2 separate regions of the Homo sapiens genome follow, and region 1 is linked to region 2. Evidence: fine-mapped expression QTL. Tissue or cell type: whole blood. Region 2 holds a variant in brackets; the other region holds the start of a gene. All regions are shown on one strand. Distances are between the middles of the regions.

Region 1 (8,175 bases), 33 kb before region 2:
TGCTCCCTTCCCGGGGACTGATACTAGTTCACAGTATTTCTGCTCTCTAGCATCCTGACTAGAGGTAAGCACATGATCCCAGGGGCCCAACAGAGGCATCCTGTGACCTCAAGGGGAAGTTGTCCTTGGCAAAGACTTAAGAGACTGACAGAAGGAGACAGGCCCCTTGGGTCATTGTTGAGCTGCTGTATCAGCCCTTCTCCAAACCTTCTGAGCTACTTCTGGGCTTTTTCATTAACCAACTAATTCCCTTTGTAGTATAAGCTAATTTGAGCTGAACTTTGTCATTCTTGCAACCAACAGCACCCTAACTCATCCTGACTTAGTGTCAGGAAATGGCACGTTGCTAGTCCCTGTAATATAAAAATGGCTGAAAGGAGTTGGGGAAGGGGGCAGTGAAGACGACGCCTGCCTCTCGCGGTGTGAAACTGGGGACCTTTGCTATATGCCGTCTATTATTGTGGTAGGCTGAATAATGAACCCCTGAAGATATACCAGGACTTAATCCTGGGACCTGCAAATGTTACCTTAAATGGCCAAAGGGAGTTTGCAGGTGTGATTGAGCTAAGGGCCGGGTGATGGGGAGATCAGCCTGGACCGGATTATCCAGTGGGCCTGACGTGAGGTCAGAGGGATCTAGGAGGAATCGGAAGGAGAGAAGATGATGTGATGATGGCAGTAGAGATTAGAGTGATCTGCTTTCCAGACAGAGGAAGGAGTGTCGGCCAAGGAATGTTAAGTGGCCTCTAGAAGCTGAAAAAGGTAAGAAACTGACTCTCCCCTAGAACCTCCAGAAGGGGGCAGCCTTGCTGACGCTTTGAGTTTAGTGCAGTGAAGTGCTAAGACTTTGGACTTCTGACCTCCAGGATTGTAGGAGGGTAAATGTGTATTGTTTTCAGCCGCTAAGTCTGCAGCATTCTGCCAACAGCAGCCTTAGGAAACCAATACAGATAGAACAGTCAGCTTTTTACTTTGGGGCACAGGCTCGGTGCCTATGGACGGTACAGCACCAGGAAACTTAGGAGGCAGAACCCACCAAGTGGGAGTGTGGCAGCTCACTCAGTAAGGTCCTGTGAGAGATATTCTAAGCCCGGAGCAGGCCATCTGAAAGCAAAGAAAGCAGAAAACACTTCCCGAGGAACCCAAATGGCATTGCAAATCCAGCCATCCTGAAATACTATCCCAATTTTTTTTTGTTTGTTTTTTTGAGGCAGGGTCTCACTGTTTTCTAGGCTGGAGTGCAGTTGTGTGATCCTAGCTCACTGCTGCCTTGAACTTCTGGGCTCAAGTGATCCTCCTGCCTCAGTCTCCTAAGTAGCTAGGACTAAGAGTGTTTACCACCATGACTGGCTAAAAGAAAAAAAAAAAAGTTTCACAGAGATGGGGTCTCCCTATGTTGCCCAGGCTAGTGTTGATCTCCTGGTCTCAAGTGATCCTCTCGCCTCAGCCTCCCAAAGTACTGGTATTATAGGTGTGAGCCACTGTGCCTGGCCTGCTGCACTTTTGTTTGCCTTATCATGTAGTTCAATGTAGCTCAGTGCATAGCACAGTTCAAACTCAATAACTATATTTTAATGTATTATGAAACATTTTATACATGTAAAAACTCATAAAGAATATAACCAACACCTGAATATAGCCCATCTGCCTTAGGAAACAAAGCATAATAGCACAATTGATCCGCTATGAATGAATTCCTTCCTGTTCACAGTCCCCACCTGTACCTATAGGCAACCACCCTCCTGAATTTATCTTTTACCATTCTGGTTTTTTTTTTTTTTTTTTGAGATAGGGTTTGGCACTATCGCCAAGGCTGGAGTGCAGTGACATGATCACAGCTTGCTGCAGCCTCAAACTCCTGGGCTCAAGGGATCCTCCTGCCTCAGCCTCCTAAAGTGCTGCGATTACAGGCATGAGCCACCATACCTGGTCGCATTCTCATCCTTTAAAAGAAAATAGTACTAAATGGTATCATACCATGTGAATTAATATTCAACTTTTTCTCATTCAACACTGTGGAGTCAGGTGCGGTAGTGCTTGCATCTGTACTCAGCTACTCAGGAGGCTGAGGTGGATCACTTGAGCCCAGGATTTTGTGGCCAGCCGGGGGAACATAGTAAGCCCCATTTCAAAAACAACCCCACAGTTTGCAAAATTCATTTATGTTGATGTATGCAACTAATGTATTCATTTTTACTAACTTATGGTATTCTACTGCATAACTGTGTAGATTATCGATTCTGCCATAGATGGCATTTTGGTTGCTTCTCCCCCAGACCCCAACTACCACTAGAAGCAACGTTGCACTGAACATTCTTGTGTTTGCACGCATAGGCAAGGTACTCTAGAGCACATACCAAGAGTGGAATTGCTAAGTTATAGAGTATCTTTGCTAGAAATTGCTAAGTGGCCATCCAAAGTTAGTGAATGAACGTACACTCCTACTGGCAGTGCAAGAGAGTTCTGCTCTGCTCACAAATCCACATCCTTATTAAGTTTGGTAAAGACAGGTTTTTAAGTTTTTGCCAATCTGTTAAGTGTAACATGGTATGTCCTTAGTTTTAATTTGCATTGCTGCTCAATACTTGTTGCAAAAATGAATAAAAAATGTTCCATTCCATACCTCTGGGATTTGAGAATCTGTCCCAATTCCTAGGTCCCATATGTAGACTCCAACATCTGTATTACTTTGGCTTTCAAAACTGGCCTTCTACTCAGACTTTCTTTTTCCATCTTCACGTTTCTGTTGTGATCCTAGTAATCCTTTGCTTAGCTGGTTTTGAAGCCTTCAAGTCAATCTCAGCCTCACTCCTTCGCCTGAAAACAGTAGCTAGCAAAGTATACGGTAAGCTATAAAAAGCACCCGGATCTAAGGTGTAACCAGTCACTAAGTGCTGCCAGTTTTTCCTCTGTCAATTGTTTCAGTTCTTCCTTCCTTTCCCCTTCCATCAGGTTAATCCTGCTGTCACCTCGCTCACTGGTTCTTGCAATAAGCCAGACTGAGCTGGAAAGAACCGCCATGGTCCTCAGTGTTGTCTGTAGGGGACCTCACTGTCTGAGGCTGTCAGGGCTCTGTCAGGAGGAGACCCCTGGGGCCTTCTGAGCCCTACTAGGAGAGGATTCTAGGAGAGTAGGACGCCTTGCACATAGTAAGTACTAAGTCAATGTTACTTACCAGTAAATGAAGAGGCATGGGAAATTGTTATTATTTTTGAGACGGAGTTTCGCTCTGTCGCCCAGCCTGGAGTGCAGTGGCACGATCTGGGCTCACTGCAAGCTCTGCCTCACGGGTTCACGCTATTCTCCTGCCTCAGCCTCCAGGGAAATTCTTAATCAGAAAATATGTCTTAGATTTTTGTTTTAAAAGAGAACTGGCAGGAGCTCCAAATACACTAAAGCTCCAGTCTGAAATGACAGTCCCTGAGCATTCAATCTTTGGTCTAAGAAGCACAGAAATGTAATGCAAACCAGACACGGTTTTTTTAGTGATTTTCTGCACACACACACACACACACACACACACACAGTAAAAAGATCTAGTCATAACGTGTGCACCTGCAGTTCCAACTACTGGGGAGGGTGAGGCAGGAGGATCACTAGAGGGCAGGAGTTCGAGACTAGCCTGGGCAACATAGCAAGACACCCACCCCCAGTCCCCCCCGGAAAAAAAGAATAAAAAAGGTAAAAATAATTTTAAAAAGAGTAAAAGGAATGTAAAAATAATTTTAATGCATTTTATTTAATCCAATACATTAAAAATGTTACCTAACATGCAAACAATATACAAATTATTTTATACGACGTCTTTGGAATCCTGTATTTTACACGTAAAGCGCATCTCACTCCGGACTAGCCAGGTTTCAAGCACGTGATAGCCGCACAAGGCTGGAACCCAGGCCTGGGGAATTAATTCTTGTCCTCGGTGCTCAAACCATTCTTCCCTTCAAGCCTGGCCTAATCCCCAGTCTCTCTCATCTCTTCGAATACGCTCCGCGGTTATGCCCCTCACCTCACTGCACTGCAAATATTTCGTCCACTGAGTATTTGCTGATCGTCACTCAGTGCCGGGTGACCCAGCTTGACCAGCACCCGCAGCCGCCCTGCCACTGTTGGGCCGGGTATGGTGTGTCTGGCTTCCCTCTGTTCTGGGCCGGCTCCGAAACGCGCTCAAGAGAAATCGGAATCAGACACGGGGCAGTTCAGCTTTGGAAATGAGGAGCTCGAGGCTCCTGGGAGTCCGTTGCGGGCAGGTGGGCGCCGCTGTTGTGTCGGGAGAGCCAGGAGCGACAGACTCAAACTCAGAAACCCAACCACCTCCGCTCCCTCCGCGATGCGTGTAACGTGCGTTGCGCGGCGTCGCCCTTTAATAACGACGGGCGCTCGGAGTGCTGCGTCACTCGCCACCAGGGACTTAGGCGGGACTTCCGGGCGCGCGTAGGCACAACTTCCGGAAGGAGGCGGAAGAGCTTCTCGGCTCTAGGCTCTGGAGTCCCGGGAGCAGTGAGGGGCCACCCGGGGCACAGGAAAGGGCCGCTAGGGGAGGGCCGGGTGCACTCGGGGTGTCTGGGCCGCGGGTCTGAGGGATGAGGAGGGGCCATGGCCAGCGACGGGGCCAGGAAGCAATTCTGGAAGCGCAGCAACAGCAAGCTCCCGGGCAGGTGGGTGTGCCGCGGAGGGCCAGGTCGGGGTCAGGGGTCAGAGGTCAGGTGGCCGCGTTGGCCTCCTGGGCTGCGGGTGGAGTCGGGGGTCTGGAGAGGGCAACTTGGACTCTGAGGAGACTGCTGGATGGTGTGACGGGCGTTGGGGGGCTCGGAGGTCGGAGCGTGGGGTCTGGGGGTGACAGTGGCTGCACGTAGGATCGAGGCTTGCAAGGACGAGGAGGAGCTATTGGCGTTTTTCCTGACACTGGCAGGCTTCTTTCCGAGAAACTCCTGGGCTCCTTGGGGAGGCTGGAAGGAACTGATTCGGGTCATGCTGTGAAGTTTGGTGGAGTCCGGAAGCTGGCCGGGCTGAGGCCCCCCGTCTGCTGGGTGGATCAGTTTCTGCAGGGGGTGTGGTGTTTTTGACCCACTTGATTTGCCTGTGGTCTCTTGAGGGCTGCGGCTCTTGCCTTGAGCATAGAAGAGGACTAGAGTTTCCCTGTGAGTTTCCATGTTTCTGCTTGCTGGTGTCAAAACCACCTCCTATGTTGTGTTAGCAGGAAGTTTTTTTTTTTTTTTTTTTTTTTTTTTTTTTTTTCTTCGGCTGGAATGACCTGGGTACACCCTAGATGCTATACAGCTCCAGAGCTCCAGAGTCCTTGTCTGATTGCTGTGGCGCTGAGCTATGCCAGGGCCCTAGGGAATGAGACATTACGTGGAGGGTACCTAGGATAAAATCAGCCACTGGTGAAAACAGATCAGAGATAAGCAAACGTCAAGATTTCAGAACATAGTTCTGTTCCAAAGCTGAAGTCTGGAATGCTGAAAATTATGAATTGTGTTACGAAGATAAGTCTGAGTAGAATCATTCATAAACACAGTAAAATGGTTTGTACTCCTGTTTCATAATAAATATTATTGTTTGAGTGTTTGAATGATAAACTTTGGAATTTACTGCATCCAGTTAGAAAAGTTTACTTTTGGCCAGGTGTGGCGGCTCACGCCTGTAATCCCAGCACTTTGGGAGGTCGAGGTGGACAGATCACCTGAGGTCAGGAGTTTGAGACCAGCCTCACCAACATGGAGAAACCTAGTCTCTACTAAAAATACAAAATTAGCTGGGCATGGTGGCACATGCCTGTAATCCTGGCTACTTGGGAGGCTGAGGCAGGAGAATCACTTGAACCTGGGAGGTGGAGGTTGCAGTGAGCCGAGATCGTTCCATTGCACTCCATCCTGGGCAATAAGAGCGAAACTCTGTCTCAAAAAAAAAAAGGAAAGTTTACTTTTAAGAGTGATCTGGGGGTTAGCAGCGTGAGTTACTGACAGCTCAGACAGTGGCTTTGAGAATGAAGGGAGTCATCAAAGGTGGCCGGAGACCCTATTCGACTCCACAGGACCGTGCTTGATTCGAGAACAGTAAGACCTTTCAACAAAACCAGTGTCAGGGTCCAAGGTGAGTGAAGATTCTGGAATGGTGGTGGGTAGGAGGTCCTGGTAGTGACAGGAACAAATGCTGTAGAACATAAGAGTCCAGGGAAGAGGAGCCACATGACAGTGTAACTTTTATGTGTTACTTTTAGGTCTTAAGGTTTTGGTTCCTCATCAGTCTAAACTCTAATTCTTAATCAGCTTAGATGTAAGAATAACAGAGCTGCTGTGTGGAGTTACAGCAGTGACTCAACCTTTGGATTGAAGGCTGTGGCTCTTGGTAATTTGTCCTTATACTGAGTTGAATTTATGTCCATCTGGAAACTATGGATGTGACATTTGGAAATAGGGTTTTTGCACAAGTAATCAAGGTAAAATGAGGTCATACTGGATGAGGGTGGGCCTTAGTTCGTCAACTAGTATTTTTATAAAAAGAGGGAAATTTGAATACAGAGAGACACACACAGGGAAATGGCCCTATGGAGACAGAAACAGAGATTGGAATAGTACATTTACAAGCCAAGGAAAGCCAGGGGTTGCTGGCAGCCACCAGAAGCTAGAAGAGGCAAGGAAGGATGCTCACCTAGAGACTTGACAGAGAGCATGGCCCTGCAGATGACCACTTGATTTTGGGTTTTTGGCGTTTAAAACTGAGAGAGAATAAGTGTCTGTTGTGTTAAGCCATTCAGTTGGTGGTAATTTGTTATGGCAGCCACAGGAGACTAATACAGTCTCCAGCTTTCTTCTGTGTGAACCTGAAATACCGAACACCAGCTTTCCTTTTCCTCTGACTTTGATGCTATTCTGTGTCTTAGGCACTTTTGAGAGCAGCTTCTGTATTACCTTTGTGAAGTTGGAGTCTTGGAGAGTTCGAGGCTGTCACTGAAGAGGGCAGAAGAAGAAGGAGAGGTTGGGTGCACCAGGAAGGCCTGTGAAGCCTCTGTGTCTCCCATCCGTCTTGTGGCTCAAGCCTCTGGCAGTGCTGCTCTTTCAGGTGGCAGGCTGGAACTCTTCCCTGAAGGAGGAGTCACAGAGGGGTGCCCGTTTTCCTATCAGTAGTGGTGATTGGTCACTAGCTGCGTATTTATTTAGTCCACACCTATGCAAGCACAGTGCTAGTGGAGATCCTAGCCAGGTTCCTGTGGCTTTGGCAGCTCTTTCAATTGTTTCCCATGATTGTTTTCTTTCTTTTTTTGTTTTTGTTTTTGTTTTTGTTTTTTTTGAGATGGAGTCTCACTGTGTTGCCCAGGCTGGAGTGCAGTGGTGTGATCTTGGCTCACTGCAACCTCTGCCTCCCAGGTTCAAGTGATTCTCCTGTCTCAGCCTCCCAAGTAGCTGGGATTACAGGCGCCCACCAGCACGCCTGTCTGTTTTTTTGTATTTTTAGTAGAGATGGGGTTTCGCCATGTCGGCCAGGCTAGTCTCGAACTCCTGACCTCAGGTGATCCATCCACCTCAGCCTCCCAAAGTGCTGGGATTATAGGCGTGAGCCTCCATGCCTGGCCTTGTTTTCCTCCTTTTTTTTTTTTTTTTTCTGAGACAAGAGTCTCTCTCTGTAGTCCAGGCTGGAGTGCAGTGGCATGATCTCAGCTCACTGCTACCTCCACCTCCTGGGTCCCGGTTGAAGCAGTTCTCCTGCCTCAGCCTCCTGAGTAGATGGGATTATAGGCACTGGCCACCACGCCCAGCTAATTTATGTGTGTGTGTGTGTGTGTGTGTGTGTGTGTGTGTGTGTGTGTGTGTGTATTTTTTTTGAGACGGAGTCTCACTCTGTTGTCCAGGCTGGAGTGCAGTGGTGCGATCTCGGCTCACTGCAAGCTCCGCCTCCCGGGTTCACGCCATTTTCCTGCCTCAGCCTCCCGAGTAGCTGGGACTACAGGCGCCTGCCACCACACCTGGCTAATTTTTTATATTTTTGGTAGAGACGGGGTTTCACCGTGCTAGCCAGGATAGTCTCGATCTCCTGACCTTGTGATCCTCCTGCCTCGGTCTCCCAACGTGCTGGGATTACAGGCTTGAGCCACTGTGCCCGGCAATTTTTGTATTTTTAGTAGAGATGGGGTTTCACCATGTTGGCCAGGCTGGTCTTGAACTCCTGATCATG
Region 2 (8,175 bases):
GAGTTTATCCCCAAGAGGTTATCATAGTTGTGTGCAAATATTTGTCTCCAAATATCTTTATTACTTTTTTTGTAATCACTATATTATTTTATTTTTTAGAGACAGGGTCTTACTCTGTAACCCAGATTGGAGTGCAGTGGTGCATTCTTGGCTCACTGCAACCTCCACCTCCCAGGCTCAAGCGATCATCCGGCCATTTTTTTGTAATCACTTATTTTATTTTTTTGAGACAGGGTCTCACTGTGTAACCCAGGTTGGAGTTCAGTGGTGCAATCTTGGCTCACTGCAACCTCAGCCTCCCAAGTAGCTGGGACCACAGGCTTATGTCACCACGCCCAGCCAATTTTTTTGTATTTTTTTGTGCAGACGTGGTTTCGCCATGTTGCCCAGGCTGGTCCTAAACTCCTGAGCTCAAGCGATCCGCCCACCTCGGCCTCCCAACATTGCCAGTATTGCCTTCAACAAACAGAGATTCGTTTATTTCCTGTGTCTGGTAGTCTGTGGTGAGCAGCGCAGGGTTGGGCAGCAGCTCAAAGCTGTCACAGCCCCATGCTGTTTCCTGCCTGTCTGCCCTGCTGCCCTTCATGGTGGCATCTTCACTCACGCACGATGGCTGAGGCCTCACCTCTGTGTTCCAGGTGGAAAAAAGGGAAAGAAGCTGGGGGCCAAAGGGGTGCTAGCTAAGCCTGTTTTTTTTTTTTTTTTTCCAGAAAAGTAAAAACCAGCATTTATTTCTTGCCGGCTATGAAAAATAAATGTGTGTCACAGGGCCAGCCGTGGCTGACGTCAGCCAAAGGAGCAAAGGCTTCTGGGTAGAGGTTGATGAGTCAACCAACAGTGTCTGCCACGTGGGGTATTTCATTTCCATCAGTTTTCCAAATTTACTCTGATGCATGTAAGACTTTTATAGTAAAACTGTTAAGTCTTTTTCTTTTTGAGATGGAGTCTTGCTCTGTCACCCAGGCTGCAGTGCAGTGGCACGATCTCGGCTGACTGCAACCTCCGCCTCCAGGGTTCAAGCCATTCTTCTGCCTCAGCCTTCCCGGTAGCTAGGATTACAGGCATGTACCACCATGCCCAGCTAATTTTTGTATTTTTAGTAGAGACAGGGTTTCACCATGTTTGCCAGGCTGGTCTCCAACTCCTGACTTCAGGTGATCCGCCCGCCTTGGCCTCCCAAAGTGCTGGGATTACAGGCGTGAGCTACCGTGCCAAGCCTGTTCAATCTTTTAAAAAATTATATTTATCTTTTGCAATTCTGCATTCAATTTCAGACAAAATGATGGCAGGTGAGAATTCCCAGGTGGGCGTTTCTTCGAGTTTTTAGTCTGTGGGCAGAGGCCTCAGTTCCTTCATTGCACTCCCAGACACCCTCATCACCGTGTAGATGCCCGAGGGTCTGTGGTGGTGCTTGTCGGGCTGAGGTCCATTCTCAGGGATGGGCTGAATGCCCTGCTTGTGTGGGGTGTGGGGTGTGGGCTTGTATGGTGCCACTCATCCCTTCTGAACTGGGCCCTCAGGACCCCGGGTGGCTGCAGGGGGGCCTGCGACAGCCCATGAGGAGCTGCTTCCTTCAGTCCTGTGGGTTCCTGGGAGCCCACCTTTCGGCTGAGCTGGTGGAGGGCTCTTGGGAAGGCAGGAGAGAGGCTCACTGGTTTTCCTTTTCTTTTCCATCAGCATCCAGCACGTGTATGGTGCCCAGCACCCCCCCTTTGATCCACTGTTACATGGCACGTAAGTGACGTTCCAACCTCACTTGGCGTCTCGGCTCTGATATGGGAGGGCTGTGGCAACCCCGGTCTTCCTGCTTCCTTCCTGCTCCCAGGCATTCCTCAGGGAGGAGACTGGTTTCTCATTCAGCCACACTGATCAAGCAGTCGCTTTGTGTGAGATACTGTGCACCCCGTGCTGCGCATCCCGGTGAAGACGGCGGATGTGGGAGCCACAGCCTGATGTGGGGAGGTGGGGGAGCCCTGGGGAGAGCCAGGAGCTGGCATCCTTTAGCCATGGGCAGCCTGGCTGCAGGCCATCCATGCTGGCTTGTCCTTTCCCCTCCTCCTTCCCGCATTCTCCACCAGCTGCTGGAGCCCGGCCCTGGCCTGTCCTGGCCCCTCCACAGCAGGCGGGAGCGCAGAGTGTGGGGCTTGTGCTGGGCTGTTGTGACCCTGCAGGACTGCACCTGTCTGACAAGTTTCTCACGTGAGGTGGGGCCGATGTTGTGTGTTGTCCTATTTTGGGGGAATCTTGTTTAAATGATCATGTCTTCAAATCCATATACCACAGGCCTGCACCCTGCACAGGCGCTCCTGGCCCACACCCCTCACTGCTGGGCAGGAGCCTTACTGGGATTCGGGGAAGGTGCCCCAGGCACTGGCCAGAGTGAGCTGGGGTGGTCCTGCAGGGTATCACCATGTGGCCCTGCGCCTCCTCCCAGGTGACCTTCCTGGAGCCCCCTCCCCCTCCTGCCACTGAGTCCTCATGGGCTTCGCCTGCTCTTCTTTTGGCTGTCTCTGTGAATTGTGTTTGCTTTTTCACTCACTATTGCTAGATCAAAGCTGAACACTTCTATGCCTGTCTTTTCACCTGGGAATTCTTTCCTGGCTGGTTTTGGGTGAAGCCTTCGAGCATGTACGAGTAAAGACTGCCTTTGCATTGCAGTTTGCTCAGGTCCACGGCCAAGATGCCGACCACACCAGTGAAGGCCAAGAGGGTCAGCACCTTCCAGGAGTTTGAGAGCAATACCAGCGATGCCTGGGACGCTGGGGAGGACGACGATGAGCTCCTGGCCATGGCGGCGGAGAGCCTGAACTCCGAGGTGGTCATGGAGACGGCCAACCGTGTGCTGCGTAACCACAGCCAGCGGCAGGGGCGGCCCACGCTGCAGGAGGGGCCAGGGCTTCAGCAGAAGCCCAGGCCCGAGGCAGAGCCGCCCTCACCCCCCAGCGGCGACCTCCGGCTGGTGAAGTCGGTCAGTGAGAGCCACACGTCCTGTCCTGCAGGTACGATGGGAGGACTGAAGAGATGGTCTGGGTTTCTGGCCAAGCTAAGAAAGTGGCCAGAACACACTCACTGTGGGAGAATCAGTGGGTTCCCATCCTCATTTGCAGCAGGCCCCCTGGCCCACGAGAGCCCTTATGGTTCTCTTCCAAGGGTAGGGGAGTGGCCTGCGCTCTTTCCTAGGGCCCCCAAGTGCTTTCTTCTGTCCTAGCTACGTGCGTGTCTCCTCCTAGTGGAGTGGAGGCTTCTGGCCTAGCTACGTGCATGTCTTCTCCGAGTGGAGTGGAGGCACCAGGCTGTTGTGGGCTGGCCGTGAGAGGGCCACGGGGGAGCAAGCGCCTGGGGACACTGTCTCCCTCCTAACTCCACCAGCTTGTGATGGTTCCATGGGTGACATTGCCAGCCGAGGGGTCAGGCCTCTGCATGTTTAGGGGCTGGCCCTCTAGGCAGCTTACAGGATTCCTGCCAGGTGTGCGTACACGTGGGCTCAGGTCTGTAGGGGCTGGGAGTCTGACTTTTGGGTCGGCCACGTTTGCACTCTGACCCCCTCGGGTGGGGTCGTGTCTGGTGCCATGTGCATGGCACTGGTGTGCAGCAGCTGTTCTTGAGGCTGTTTCTGTGGCTGCTGCTCTTTATGTGTTGCAGGCCATCACGTCTGTGATGGAAAAGCTGCATGGTTGTGCGATGAACCCACTGTGGGCCGCGGGTACTGTTTTCAGAGCTTGGGAGACCCCACTGGACAGACTGAGGTACATCTGTGCCCTGCGGCAAGTCCATTCTGGTGAGAGGGACAGATGCAGCACTGCCCACAGTCAGCAAGGGGGCACAGAGCGTGCTGGGAGGCAGCAGGTGCCACGGTCAAGAGAGGCAGAGAATGGGGTGGGAACGCGGTGGCCCTGAGAGCAGTGGGGAGCAGGTGTCATCTGAAACGGGGAGGTCAGGGTGTCTTCGTGTCAGTGGTGCTGTTGGGAGGCAGGGGGTGAGGGGCAGGGGCGAAGTCCAGCTGGATTGGCCACTGGCCCTCATAGGTACCTCCCTCCAAGGTCTTCTGGGGGCTAGGGTGCTCTCCCCACATTTCCAGCTGAGAAGATGGAGATTGTTAGGGTGGCCTGATTTTACCCTGGAGAACTAGGTTTCATACCTAGGTCTAGTTTTTAAAACCACTTTCTAGGAATTGGTTAACTTCTAAAATGTTACAGCTCTCATTAGTTGAGAATGCTGTGCGTGATTTCATTTGATCAGTTTTCTTTTTGGAGTGTAATAAATTTTAAAGTCTTTGAACTCGTAACTGGAAATCTGGTGATGGCCTTTGCGGGAGGCTTGGAAACCTGGTGACTGACTGAAGCATGCACTGACCGCCTTCTGCAGGCCCAGTCCTGGGCAGCGCCCTTCAGCCTGTGGCAGTCGGAGTTGGCAGGATCCCTGGCTTCATCTGCTCATGGGTGGTGCTGACATTGAAGCTCTGTGAGCCTCTCAGCACCGTGCCCCCTACCCCCAAGATGCAGGGCACTGTCAGGCTGAGAGTGGCCAGGACCGCAGGACCACACGGTGTGTGGCTGGGGGATCTGACAAGAGGCAGGCTCAGGCTGTGACCAGCTGGGGTCGGGGAGCT[A/G]TGAGATGTCACCCTGGGATGTCACCCTGGGATGGCCTCATCCTGGAAGAGCCAAGCAAAGGATGCTGCAGGCAGCTTGCGCTGGGAGAAGGGGGCCCATGACCTCATTGCCTTGTGCTCCCACTTGCCTGCCTTGGAGTTGGCCACCTTTCCTGTGTTTGCTTTCTGGGCAAGCTTTTTTTGAGTACTTCAGTATAGTGACAATGATACCATATATTGATCATTTACTGTGTGGCAGGTACAGTATCAAGTCCCTGTGATACTAAACTCATTAAGCTTTGCAGCAGCACTAGGACATGGACTTATGGGCTCTGCTCAGGAGTGAGCGGCCCCTTACGTGTCCTGATGAAACCACATCAGTCATTTCTGAAGATCACAGGGAAGTCCAGCTGAGCACCTTTAATTCTGGGACTCAGTGCACAGCTGCTCTTCCTGCTGAATATTCACTCTGAGGAACTGTAAGTGCTGCTGAAGCAGGAGCCTCTGAAGGAGGGAGAGGGGGCACTGTCACCCATGGTCCTCCCCTCTGCTCAGGTGCTGGTTCTCAGCCCTGTCTGCAGTAAGGCCGGCAGCGGAAACTCTGGAGCCAGACGCCCCGGGCTGGAGCCCCAGCCCACTGCTTGGTGTGCGGCTGCTACAAAATAGGAATCACTGCAAGGGCACTGAGGCTGGTGGGAGGAGATCCTCCTGGGGGTTGGGGGGAGTCAGGGAGAGTGGGCAGCGGGGATGGGGGAGGAGACAGGGCGGTACTCTGAAGTCTATGTCCCCACTTTAGCAGACTTTTCTGGAAATTTAACTGGGCCACATTCTGCCCAGAGGCCATAGGTTGCCTGGCTCCTGGATAGCCTGAGGGTTTCTGTGTGAATTATTTTCCCCCACTCCCAGGTTATAAGGGAAATGGGGGTGCTCTGTGGGAAGGAGGGCGCGGGGGAGTGCGGCTCCTACCTCCTTGCTCAGCGGCTGCTGGAGTGGATGTCGGCCCGTCAGCTGCAGCGTTTGCTTCGGCTCCATTTCCTGGAGTTTATTTTTCACTCTACTTTAATTTTCAGTTTTTGAAAAATGAGATAGCTAGACAGGATTTAGACCCAGGAGTTTGGAGCCTTTCCCAGCCTCTTGCTTGTTGGTCTCGGATGGCAGTGTTGAGTGATCTGAGGGCCTTAGGGTCTTCCCTTGGGCTGACCCGGTCCCGGGTTGCTGGGTGGAACGTGCTGTCTCACCACCTGCTTGGATCCCCCTGGGCCTGTCCGTCTTGGGGGTCAGTGGGGCCATGGTGGGCAGCAGCAGAGGGCGGGAGGGAGGGCGGGCAGCTTGTACTCTAGTGCCACTGCGGTCACTGCCTGTGGTGGGGTCTGGGAAGGTGCCATCCCTCACCTGTCTGGCTTCCTTTGTTTCCTTGGGATGAGGGTCCCTGTGGGACCTTCCTCCCAGGGCACTGGTGAGACCCAGGAGGGCCAGGCAGGTGGCGGGGTTGGGCACGCTCTTGAGATGGCAGGTGAGAGCCCTCGCAGCGCCCTGGTTCCTGCTGTGTCCCCACTGTTGCCTTCTGTCCTCAGCACCTCTGCAGGCTTTCTCCTTTCCCTCATGGTAACTCACGGGCTTGCCCTCCGCACTCAGGCCTGGCTGACCCGAGGGCACCGTCCTACACAGACCCTCTGGGTCATGTCACCTGGGCAGGCCCTGATCTGCCACCCCAGGCACTGGTGGGAGCCTGACCTCCACACAGCCCGAGGGGCCCTGGAGTTTTCTGGCTGTCATTGTGTTGCTTTTATGCAAGGTGGTCCATTTTGTTGGTGAATAATACTCTGCCAGTGAAGCGAGTGAATTTCAAAGGTGTCAGTTCCATGTTATTGCTCAAGAAACCAAGGTCCCCACTGCTGAGTGATGGGAAGAAGGGACCCATCAGCATTCACAAAGGGACAGTGGCACAGCAAGGAGGAACGTGTAGTCGGGAGGAGCGCCCTCACCCTCACCCCCATTCTCTCACCCCTGCAGAAAGTGCCAGCGATGCCGCCCCTCTGCAGAGGTCCCAGTCTCTCCCACACTCGGCCACCGTCACGCTGGGTGGCACATCTGACCCCAGCACTCTCAGCAGCTCAGCGCTGAGCGAAAGAGAGGCCTCCCGGCTCGACAAGTTCAAGCAGCTGCTTGCCGGCCCCAACACGGACCTTGGTAAGCACCCTGCCCTCTGGAGGACACACACAGACATTTCTTGCTGTTTCTGAAATAGATCACATCTTAAAGGATTCTATGTATGCTTATGTAATGCACACGCGTCCGTGTGTAATTTGCCTTGCAGGAAGGTGATGTTTTCATGTAATATTTTCAAGTCAGTCACTAAGGTAGTAGCAATTTGTGCTTTAGACAAGTTTTGTTAATGTTTTTCCCATGCAATTTGAAAATGTATTTTGCGTTCCTTTTTGTTTTCTTTTTTTAAAATTTGAGACAAGGTCTTACTCTGTTGCCTGGCTGGAGTGCAGTGGTGTGATCATAGCTCACTGCAACCTGGAATTCCTGGGCTCAAGCAATCCTCCTGCCTCAGCTTCCTGAGTATGTGGGACTACAGGATTGTGCCACCATGCTCACCAGATTTTTTAAACAATTTTTTCTACAGATACGGGTCTGCCTGTGTTGCCCAGGCTGGTCTTGAACTCCTAGGCTTAAGAGATCCTCCTGCCTCAGCCTCACAAAGCACTGGGCTTAAGGCGTGATCCACCACGCCTGGCCCATTCTGTTTTCCTGTTGTCCCATTTGCACTCTTTATTATTGCTGCCCTTGGTGAGCCCTTCGAGGCTGGCCAGGTGGACATCCTTGTTCTTGACAGTATTCTGAAGACAGTGGCTCATGGGGGCACAGCGCTGGTGACCATCAACTCAATCTGCTGGTTTTGTACTTTCCTACCATGGGGCTTGCAGTCATCAGAGGGTGACAGGCTGTGAGCCCTGCAAGGGGGCAGGGGTGAGGCTGGGGCAGAGGGGCAGGCCCACAGGGCAGAGCACAGTCACCAGTGTGACTCTTCCTGCGCGAGTTGCTTCCAGGCACACGCAGTGCCCATGTGGACTGCCGTGGCCAGGCTCTGTGGAACGCACTTGCTTTCAGTTCCTCTGGTGGAATTCCTGCTGAATCCACGTCCTTCCTTTCCCTATCTCATCTTTGTGGAGTGCCACTCTGGCTAGGTGTTTGCTAGACGCTGGAGCTCTCGGGAGGACCGGAATGTGGCCTTGGTCATGAGATTGCTTCATTGAGGGGACAAACCTGTATCACACAGTTATGACTGGTGTCACTGTGGCACTCTAAGAGCCAGAGGTGCAACGCCTGGCTTGGCCAGGAGGTGGCGAGTGGCGCACGCGGATGGGCCGCCAGGAGCCACGCAGGAGCCATGCAGGGGCCATATAGGAGCTTGCAGCAGCCGGGCCTTCACGCTCAAGCCCAGGGCAGGGAGAGGGTTTCCGGGCAGAAGCAGCGGTTCAAAGGGCATGGCTGAAGCTGTGTTCTCGAGGCGGGGGAGGGCTCTTGGAAGGTCTCCTGGCTAGAAGGACACAGCTCTGAGTAGAGTTCTCAGAGTGGGT

The links. PIP is the estimated chance that this variant, and not a neighbour inherited with it, causes the effect.
Region 1: it holds the start of TBC1D22A, and the variant in region 2 is fine-mapped to the expression of TBC1D22A in whole blood (TOPMed, PIP above 0.99).

What each region holds. Positions count from the first base shown.
Region 1 is chr22:46,758,191-46,766,365 of GRCh38, forward strand. TBC1D22A (TBC1 domain family member 22A) reads left to right here and starts at 4,460. Exons shown (of 13, transcript NM_014346.5): 1 at 4,460-4,658. The coding sequence starts at 4,597. TBC1D22A-DT (TBC1D22A divergent transcript) reads right to left here and starts at 4,338. Exons shown (of 1, transcript NR_186691.1): 1 at 3,721-4,338. RefSeq lists enhancers at 3,507-4,341, 4,078-4,207, 4,908-4,987, 5,918-5,987, 6,028-6,107 and 1 more and a silencer at 5,108-5,167.
Region 2 is chr22:46,790,843-46,799,017 of GRCh38, forward strand. TBC1D22A (TBC1 domain family member 22A) reads left to right here. Exons shown (of 13, transcript NM_014346.5): 2 at 1,678-1,734; 3 at 2,659-2,999; 4 at 6,602-6,778. Among named protein-coding and RNA genes, the nearest start is that of TBC1D22A, 32 kb to the left of the region's middle. RefSeq lists enhancers at 649-758, 7,475-7,975. The variant A/G (reference allele first, on the strand shown) is at 4,610.